2 separate regions of the Homo sapiens genome follow, and region 1 is linked to region 2. Evidence: fine-mapped expression QTL. A gene starts in region 2. The other region holds a variant in brackets. All regions are shown on one strand. Distances are from middle to middle.

The links. PIP is the estimated chance that this variant, and not a neighbour inherited with it, causes the effect. A credible set is the group of variants that fine-mapping cannot tell apart.
Region 1: its variant is the best candidate, but not a certain one, in a credible set for the expression of CYREN in whole blood (INTERVAL, PIP 0.88).

Annotation. Positions count from the first base shown.
Region 1 is chr7:135,136,275-135,141,657 of GRCh38, forward strand. It overlaps a transcript of CYREN not described here. Among named protein-coding and RNA genes, the nearest start is that of TMEM140, 9.1 kb to the right of the region's middle. The variant T/C (reference allele first, on the strand shown) is at 2,862.
Region 2 is chr7:135,167,964-135,173,346 of GRCh38, forward strand. CYREN (cell cycle regulator of NHEJ) reads right to left here and starts at 2,744. Exons shown (of 4, transcript NM_024033.4): 1 at 2,689-2,744; 2 at 823-1,097. The coding sequence starts at 959. RefSeq lists enhancers at 1,055-1,184, 3,265-3,484 and a silencer at 2,275-2,884.

The DNA.
Region 1 (5,383 bases), 32 kb before region 2:
TTGAGTGGTCTACTCTCAACAGTATTTCTAGTAGCTAAAGAGTTTCCAAGGAGAGCCCACTGCACTGTTAAAAGAGTAACTATTATGTTTTAAAGGACCATGACCATAGATTTCCTCAGGAATCTTTAATGTCTGGTGGGAAATAGCTATCTTCTAAATACATTAGATGGTGCTTTGAAGGCAAGTATCCTGGTTCTCAAAGAGTACCCCAACTTTTGGTATAAAATTCTCATCCTTAGTGATTATCTTGGGCAAGAGCAGAAGTCTACTTGCTTTTGGGATGCCCTCTGCCAGGTAGGTGCTCGGGCTTGGGAAAGCCAGAGGTTAATGTTCCGGATCATAGCATTTATTGTAGCTGACTTCAGGATGGAGTAAGAGTTCTCAAAATTCCATTGGCCCTTCTCCACAAAGATCAGGACAAAAGCCTAAACTCTGGGAAAATATTTTTAATTCAGTGAAATGTCATTTGAATCTTCGACTGCCTAAGAGTTTGAAATTGTAAACTCTGGAATGTATTGTCTTTGTGGATGACCAAAAAAGGTGATAAACCAGTTTCCTGGAAGATTTAGGGATGCACAGATATTACCTAAACAATTTTACCTTGGTCCATAATTGCACTCCTTGTATTTGATACAAATATAAGATGCTTTACCCAAAGTAAGAGGATTGGCAGTCCACTTCCTCACTATGCTACAATACTTTCAGTTTTCTGAGCATGCCACTCTCTCATAAAAGCTATTTATTCTCTCAGCCCAGCATCTCCTCCACCTGGCAGCCCCTACTTCTTTAAGATTCAACTCAACTGCTGCCTTCTCTGGCAAACCTTCCATATATTTCCATAGAAATTTAAAACAACTACGATGAATATGCTGACAGTTCTAATGGGAAAATTGGACAATGCAAGAACAGATGGGTAATATAAGCAGAGAGATGGGAACTAAGAAACAAAAAAAAAATGCTAGAAATCAAAAACACTGTAACAGAATGAATGATGATGGACTACCCAACAGGTAAGACACAACTGAGGAAAGAGTCAGTATGCTTAAAACAATGTCAATAGAAACTAGCAAAACTTAAATGCAGAGCAAAAAAGAATGAAAAATTCAGAATATCCAAAAACTGCAGGACAATTTTAAAAGGTATGTAACGTGTAATGGGACTACTGGAAGTAAAGGAAAAAAAGGAACACAAGAAATATTGAAGCAGTAATGACGGAGAATTTCTCAAAATGAACGACACCAAACCACAGATCCAGAAAGCTCACAGAATACCAGGAATGATAAATACCAAAAAAATCAAAGACCAAGAAAAAATCTTGAAAAAAACACCTTATGTATAGATAAGCAGGGATAAGAATTACATCAGACATCTCTTCAGAAACCATGCAAGAAAGAAGAGAGTGGAGTGAAACATTTAAAGGGTTTAAAGAACCACTGTCTCAGCTCAGGCTGCTGTAACAAAATACCATAAACTAGGCTGCTTAATGAAACAATAGAAATTTATCTCAGTTCTGAGGCTGGGAAGTCCAAGATCAAGATGTCAACAGATCCAGTGTCCAGTGAGGGCAGTCATCTTGGTTTGCAGGTGGCCTTCTTGTTGTATCCTCGCATGGTAGGGAGAGATCATCCCACGTCTCTTCTTATGATCACTAATCTCATTCATGAGGGCTTCACCCTCATGACCTAATTACCACCCAAAGGTCCTGTCTTCTAATACGATCACACTAGGGGTTAGGATTGCAACATATGAAATTTGGGGGATGCAACATCAGACCATAACAACCGCTGACTACAGTTCTGTATCCAGTGAAATTGTCCTCCAAAAGTGAAAGAGAAATGGACTTTTTCAGACAAACAAAAATTGTGGGAATTTGTCATCTCTAGAGCTGCTCTTTTTTTTAATGTTAAAAGAAATTCTTTAGAAAGGATGAAAATTATACAGGTCAGAAATTCTGGCCTACGTAAACAAAGGGAAAGCAATAGAAAAGGAATAAATGAAGGTAAAATAAAATCTTTTATTTTTCTTAATTACCTAACAGATAATAGTTTGTTCAAAACAATAACAGTGTATTCAGAAATTATAGCTTATTGATAAGTGAAATGAATAGCAGCAATGTTGTAAGGAATCGGAGGGAGGAATTGGGAATACCCTGTTACAAAATACTTGTACTACCAAAGAAGCAAGTGGTATAGGGTTATTTGAGAAAGGATTGGATTCATTGTAAATGTATCCTGTAAATTCAAGGGTAAAAAAGAGGTAGAATTGATATACTAAAATAGGAAAAAAATCAAATCATACAAAATATTCAATTAAAATAGAAGGAGGTAGAAAACAAGTGGAAGACAAAATAATAAAGGTTTGTTACATGGGTAAATTGCATGTTGTGGGCATTTGGTGTACAGATTATTTCATCATTCATGTAATAAGCATAATACACAATAGGTAGATTTTCGATCCTCACCCTCCTCCCACCCTTCACCCTCAAGTAGGCCCTAGTGTCTATTGTTCCCTTCATTGTGTCCATGTGTACCTAATGTTTAGTTCCCACTTATAAGTGAGAACTTGTGGCATTTGGTTTTCTGTTCCTGCATTAATTTGCTTAGGATAATGACCTCCAGCTTCACCCATGTTGCTGTAAAGGACACTATTTCATTCTTTTATATGGCTGCATAGTATTCTATGGTATATGTGTACCACATTTTCTTTATTCAGTCCACCATTGATGGTCATCTAGGTTAATTCTATGTCTTTGCTACTGTGAATAGTGCTACAGTGAACATACACATGCATGTGTCTTTATGGTAGAACAATTTATATTCCTTTGGATATATACTGCATAATGGGATTGCTGGGTCAGATGA[T/C]AGTTGTGTTTTAAGTTCTTTGATAAATCCCCAAACCACTTTCCAAAGTGACTGAACTAATGTACATTCCTGCCAACAGTGTGTAAGCATTCCCTTTCCTCTGCAACCTCACTAGTTTTTTTTTACTTTAACAATAGCCATTCTGACTGTTGTGAGATGGTATCTCATTGTGATTTTGATTTGCATTTATCTAATCATTAGTGATGTTGAGAATTTTTTCATATGCTTGTTGGCCATGTGTATGTCTTCTCTTGAGAAGTGTCTATTCGTGTCCTTTGCCCTTTTTTTTTTAATGAGGTTGTTTTTTGCTTGTTACGTTTTTTATAGATTCTTAATATTTGACCTTTCTTAGATGCATAGTTTACAAATATTTTCTCCCCTTCTATAGGCTGTTTACTGTGCTCAAAGTTTCTTCTGCTGTGCAGAAGCTCTTTAGTTTAATTAGGTCCCACTTGTAATTTTTGTTTTTGTTGCAATTGCTTTTGTAGTCTTTAACGTGAAATATTTGCCAGGGCCTATGTCCAAAATGGTATTTTCCAGGTTTTCTTCTATGCTTTTTATAGTTTTAGGTTTTACATTTAAGTCTTTAATCCATCTTGAGTTGATTTTTGTATATGGTGAAAGGAAGGGGTCCAATTTCAATTTTCTGCATATGACTAGCCAGTTATTCCAGCACCATTTATTGAATAGGGTGCTCTTTCCCCATTGCTTGTTATTGTTGACTTTGTCAAAGATCAGATGGTTGTAGGGTACAACATTATATATGGGTTCTTTAACCTGTTTCATTAGTCTGTTTTTGTACCAGTACCATGTTGTTTTGGTTACATAGCCTTGTAGTATAGTTTGAAGTCAAGCAGTGTGATGCTTCCAGCTTTGTTCTTTTTGCTTAGGATTGCTTTGGCAATTCAGGCTCTTTTTTGGATCCACATGAATTTTAGAATAGTTTTTTTTTTCTAATTCTGTAAAAAATATTGTAGTTTGATAAAGAATACATTGAATCTGTACATTGTTTTGGGCAGTAAGTCCATTTTAACAATATCGATTCTTCCTATCCATGAGCATGGAATGTTTTTCCATTTATTTGTGTCATTTCTTATTTTTTTCAGCAGTGCTTTGTAATTCTCATTGTAGACATCTTTCACGTCCCTGGTTAGTTGTATTCGTAGGTATTTTTATCTACTTGTGGTTATTATGAATGGGATTGCATTCCTGATTTGGTTCTCAGCTTGGACATTATTGGTGTATAAGAATGCTATTGATTTTTGTACATTGATTTTGTATCCTGAAACTTTGCTGAAGTTGCTTAGCAGATCTAGGAGCCTTTGGGCAGAGACTATGGGGTTTTCTAGGTATAGAGTCATATAATCTGCAGAGAGATAGTTTGACTTCATCTCTTTTTATTTGGACGCCTTTTATTTCTTTCTCTTGCCTAGTTGCTCTGGCTAGGACTCCCAATACTATGTTGAGTAGCAGTGGTGCAAGTGGACATCCTTGTTTTGTGCCCATTTTCAAAGGGAATGCTTCCAGCTTTTGCCCATTTAGTATGCTGTTGGCTGTAGGTTTATCATAGGTGGCTCTTATTATTTTGAGGTATGTTGCCTTGATCCCTAGTTTGTTGAGAGTTTTTAACATGAAGGGATGCTGAATTTTATCAAAAGCCTTTTCTGCATCTATTAAGATGATCAATAGATGCAGGAAAGATTGTTTATAGTTCTGTTTATGTGATGAATCACATTTATTGATTTGCATATGTTGAACCAACCTTCCATCCACCTTGAACATGGTGGATTAGCTTTTTGATGTGCTGCCGGATTCGGTTTGCTAGTATTTTGTTGAGGATTTTTTCCTCTATGTTCATCAAGGATATTGACCTGAAGTTTTCTTTTTTTCATTGTGCCTCTGCCAGGTTTTGGTATCAGGCTGATGCTGACCTTATAGACTGAGTTAGAGAGGAGTCCCCACTCCTTGATTTTTTGGGATAGTTTCAGTAGGTTTGCTACCTGTTTTTCTTTGTATGTCTGGTAGAATTCAGCCATGAATCTGTATGGTCCAGGGCCTTTTCTGGTTGGTAGGTTTTTATTACTGATTCAATTTCAGAACTTGTTATAGTATGTTCAGGATTTCAATTTCTTCCTGGTTCAATCTTGGGAGGTGGTATGTTTCTAGGAATTTATCCATTTCTTCTAGGTTTTCTAGTTTGTATGCATACAGTCATTCATAATTGTCTCTGAGGGTTTCTTATACTTTTGTGGGGTCAGTGGTAATGTCCCCTTTGTTATTTCTGATTGTGTTTATTTGGATCTTCTCTGTTTCTTCATTAGTCTAGCTAGTGGTCTATCAATTCTATTTATTCTTTCAAAAAACCAACTTTTGGTTTTGTTGATCTTTCGTATGTTTTTTTGTGTCTCAGTTTCATTCAGTTCAGCTCTGATTGTGCTTATTTATTTTCTTCTTCTAGCTTTGGGGTCGGTTCACTCCTGTTTTTCTAGTTCTTCTAGGTGTGGTGTTAGATTGTAAATGTG
Region 2 (5,383 bases):
TCCTCAGCCTTGCAGCCCAGTGACTGGCACAGGGCTTCATGGAGGCAACACCGGGGTGCCTCCCACCCTCCACCAACTGCCCTACAAGGATCTGGAAGTAGGGAAGGATGGCCGCCTCTGAAACACACACATGGATGCAAGAGGAAGGGAACCTCGGGCTGAGGCTGTACTGAGAGGAACCTGAAAGCAGGACCAGACTTAGGGAAAGACGGCAGCAGTCACAAGGGAAGGCTGTCAGTCAGGAAACCTTAGAGGAGGAGGAGCCAGAGAGGGAAACACCGAGTGCTGGGGCCCCGCCCACTTCACAGTGCAGCCTGGAGACTCACCACCCCCCCCCCGCCCCCCCCCGGCAATTACCGTCATTCAACTAACTCACTCCCCAGCTCCTTAGCTCTTGCTGGCCCTGCAGCTGCTGCTCATCTGTCCATCCCTAAAGGTCTGTCCACAGGGGCAGGCACCACTCAGAACAGACCCTTCCACTGATCTTGCCCATCTGATGTTACCATGTTTGTTGTAAAGGAAGAGACTGGCATTCTGGACAACTGGCATCAGAGACTGGCTGACATGGAGAACCCACTCTGTGTGTGCTGAGGGCAGGGCACTCACCAGTGCAGAGGCAGAAGTGGGTGCCTGTCCTCGAGGGTTAACCCGCTTTGCCTCCCGCCCACAGCCCCTCCACCTTCTAAAAGCTCAAGAGATGATCAGACTGAAACACCCGCCCATCTTGCTGTTCTGCCTAGGCTGGAAGACCTGGCCCAGGTCATGGAGGCCCCTGCTCCACTTGCCAGATTCGCAGGAGTCTTCTGACCAGAGCTGTCGCACCTTGCTGCTGCCACTGGCACTGCTGCCATTCTCATCCTCTTGGGGGCCTTCATTGGTGCCACATTCTTTGTAGCCACCTGGGCTGTCAGCCATGAGGGAAGGACCCTCGTTTTAGTCTCGGATTGTAAGGTTTCCATCTCTGTACCTTCTCACAAAGAAGAGTCAGGGCCCAAGCTTAATGACCTGTTTTTTAATTCAGGAAGGTAAATCTCGTTCTCTCGTCACACCCGGAATTACAGGTCCATTTGTCCTCAGTGGGAGTTGATCTTTGATTCCTACAAAGAACAATAAAGTCCGGTGAATTCCCATACCTCCAGTCATCAGGCACAGTTACTGGTCGGTGCAGGGCAGGCCAGAAGTGACCAAGGCCCAAGAGACTCAGACGGCCATTCACAGGCATCAGGCAGGTGTGATTGTGGGCAGGACAGCAGCTCAGGAGAGAGCCCTCTGACCTCCCCAAAGCTGGTGCCCCCTACAGGCAGCCAAAGCCAACCAGAGATACCTCCTGCAGCCTCTGTGCTGACTGACTCAGCACAGGAGGAACGGAAGGAGGCGGAGGCCCCTAATGTTCCTTCTCATTACCACCCCAAATGCCACTGTCCTCTGGGTGCCCAGCCCATTCAATCCCTAAAATACCTCTTAATGGCCTCTCCCTCATCTGGCCAACTCGATTTCTCTACTCTTCTATGGTGGCTCAGTTAAATGAAACTGAGGGCATTTTATTTCACAATAAAGTCTCATTGGCCAACACGCCGCCCTTAAGCTAAAGATACTTCTGATTGGTCAAACTTGAAGCAGCAATAGGGGCCCGGAGGCATTAACTGTGCCAGTCTGTAGATTCTGAAGCCCACGCCAGCCTCTGATCTAGTTTGGCCTCTCTTTTCCCTATCCCAATTGTTCTGCCTCCACTCAGCAGTCCTGGAGCTCAGTCCTCACCCAGAGAGATGGAGTTGTGACTCAGAGGGCCTAGGTCTCTACCTTCCACTTAGGAATCAAGCCAGAAGCTCCTGAAGCGGAGGTTTGCCCAAAAAAAAGAGTAGTCAGCGATAGTCCTCTCTGAATCATAATTTGATAATGCATTGCTCATCCAGATGGCTGTTTACAATTTAAGAAAAAATATTACCAGGCCCTCCTCCTAACCTGCCCGGCCATGGGGCACACCTTTGCCAATGCACCTTCATTTCTGTCAAAACTCAGTGATATTAGTGACTCCTACCCCCTAAGGCGCCTCCCAAGCGCAATGCTGCAGTCTGTGCGGACAAATTTAGTTCACCCTGGGGTGCCTATTAAGTACATTTCGCAAACGAGGAACTGAGACTTAGTTAACTTGCAGAAGATCACAGAAAAGTTTGAAATCAGCTGGTTGGATTCGCAGCCAGGTCCTGCAGACTCCAGACCCCGCGCCTCCCCGCCCTACTTCTGGGCCCCAAGAGCAGGCCGCGGCAACTTCCAGAAGCCGGGTCTCTGGGGCACCGCGCTCGCGGACCGACCTCAGTCCCATCCCAGCCGCTCCCTGCCTGGGCAGAATGGGGGCCCCGCGGGAACGCGATGTGCTGCCAGTTCACAGCCCGCCCTCCCTCTGCGGGCCGGTACCCGCCGCTGGCGGCGCCGACCTGTGGGAGGCCCAGAGGGCGGGTGAGTGCGGAGCGGAAGGCGCGGGCGAAGCACCGCAGGGGCCTCGCTGACCCCGCCACACGCCGGGCAGGGCTGCAACGGCTCCTTCCGACTGGAGCGGCCGCGCGCTCCTCCGGCCGGCTACTGGCTTCCCTGCTCTCAGGTTCCCGTCTCCGGCTCTCGTGCCCCTTCTTAGCTTCCAGAGCGGAGCCGGGAGGCAAATTCCAAGCGGTTGTGGGACCCACGCCTCACCCGGAACTTTAAGCCCTGCCGTCTCGCCTGGCGCCCAAACTCTGCGGACCTCCACTGGCCGCCCGCCTCTTCCGGCCCCGCGCGCTCCGGGGTCCCGCGGGCTCCCGGCCTCGGGACACTTCCGGTCTTGGGGAACTCCCGGCCCCCTCGCAGTCCCGGCGCCCGGGACACTTCCGGCTCCCGGCAGCTGCCTCAGTCGGAGGTCCGCGGGCGCCCCATGCTGGCAGTGGTAATGCCGCCGGCTGGCATCCGGTTGGCTGCGCGCTGGGAACGCCAGCGAGGCAGCGCCACCGGCTTGAGGAGGGTGAAAGTTCAATTCTTGGCCCCTGAAGTTAGCGGAAGGGAACGGGCATGTTTTGGAAAGGCCCGCCGGGAATTCCCTCAGAAACCAGGCGAAGCTCCCTGCTGGGCCAGGCCCCCCTCGTGTGCTTGAGGAGGATGGGAGCCCGGCCTCGGTTTGTTATCCTAATTAAGTGGAAAATTAAGAAAATAATAGAATAGCGTAAGTACTAATAGTAAAATTATAGTAAGAGAAATAACAATAGCTAGAATGGAATGAATTGCTGTATTAACCAAGGCTAGAAAGAATTTCAGCCCTCCGAAAGTTAAAGCGAGGGAAGAGAGAGACCCTCTCATATTGTTTTATACTCAGTACCTGTTTTTTTTTTTTTTTTTAAAAAAAAAAGGAAGTGAAATCAAAGACAGGCAGCCCAGCGCCAGGCCCAAAACTGGACCTGGGCCTGCCTGGCCTAAACCTAGTAGTTAAAAATCAACTCATGACTTAGAAACCGATGTTATTCATAGATTCCAGACATTCTATAGAAGAACATTGTGAAACTCCCTGCCCTGTTCTGTTTCTCCCTGACCATCGGTGCATGCAGCCCCTGTCACGTACCCCTTGCTTGCTCAAATCAATCACGACCCTTTCATGTGAAATTTTAGTGTTGTGAGCTCTTAAAAGCGACAGAAATTGTGCACTCGGGGAGCTCGGATTTTAAGGCAGTAGCTTGCCAATGCTCCCAGCTGAATAAAGCCCTTTCTTCTACAGCTCCGTGTCTGAGAGGTTTTGTCTGTGGCTTGTCCTGCTACAGTCCTTGGTTCCCTGACCAGGAAGCGAGGTGACTGACAAGCCCTGTGGAGCGTCCCTGCAGAGGACTCCGGCCAGCCTGACTGACGCAATCCAAAGAGCGCTCCCGGGTAGGAAATGGCCCCGGTGGAATGCCTTGCCAGAGCAGCGCATAGCAGGCTCCCGAGAAGGATTAACACTGGCTGAACACCGGGAAGGAACTGGCACTTGAAGTCCAGACATCTGAAGCTTGTCAAGACTAGTTTTTGGAACTTGCCCCACTCCATGTGAGTGGAAGCATGGCCTGATCACCCACGGTGTGCCTGTATTGACATCTTTGTTCTGGTTTTGACTTGGCTTGACTTGGTAAGACTAGTCTTTGGAACTTGCCCCACTCCACGTGAGTGGAAGCGTGGCCTGATCACCCACGGTGTGCCTGTATTGGCACTTTTGTTCTGGTTTTGACTTGGCTTGACTTGGTAAGACTAGTCTTTGGAACTTGCCCCACTCCATCTGAGTGGAAACGTGGCCTGATCACCCACAGCATGCCTGCATGGGCACTCTTGTTCTGGTTTTGACTTGACTTGAATTGCTGGATACTTTGGTTTTGGTTTTGACTTGGCTTGAATTTTTTGGTACTCGGATTTTGAATTTCGTGATTTTGGTTTGGTATAAACGGTAAAAGTGTGTGTGCCCTCTTTACCTGTTCTTTGTCTTGTGGTATGTGTGGTGTGAGCGTGGTATTTTGTCTGGAAAAAAAAAAAAAAAAACATGGGTCAGGTGCAAAGTAAGCCCACCCCACTGGGACCTATGTTAAAAAAATTTTTTTTCAAGAGAGAATTTAAAGGAGATTACGGTGTTAGTATGACACCAGGAAAACTTAGAACTTTGTGTGAAATAGACTGGCTAGCATTAGAGGTAGGTTGGCCACCAGAAGGAAGCCTGGACAGGTCCCTTGTTTCAAAGGTATGGCACAAGGTAACCTGTAAGCCAAAGCACCCAGACCGGTTTCTGTACATAGACAGTTACAGCTGGTTTTAGACCCCCTTTCCCCCACCACAGTAGTTAAGAGAACAGCAGCATAAGCGGCTGGCAGAGCCAAGGAACGACCAGAAAAGAGAAAAAGAGGCCATCTGTACCAATTCTAAGAGTTTAGACTAAACAAGTTCTTATTAATAGCAAAGGATAATTGAAATCTCAAACTTACAAGGTTTTCAACAAAAGTGAAGTTTGCTAAAAGTTAACAGTGTAACATGTATTTTGGTAACTTCTAATCTTGTGGCCTTAGACAGTCTAGTCCAAAGACATAAAGAAAGTTCGCTTTTTTAAAAAGGAAAGAAAAGGGGGGAGGCAGAATTTATATTAAAAAAAAGTTATATGGTAAATTCTTGTCCTGAAATAAATTAACTGGTTGTTTAAAGAAAAAAAAGTTTGTTAATCAGTCAAAAAATTGAGACATGTTAAAAAATTGTCTGGGAAAGTCGTGAGAAAAAAATTATAAAAAAAAATTTTTATGCAAAAAATATTGTATAATTTAAAAGTAATGAGGCCTCCTGAGTACTATTTAAAAAAAAAAAACCAGTTCATGTGCAAGATGTATAAGAAAAGTAAAATATACCTTTGGTAAAA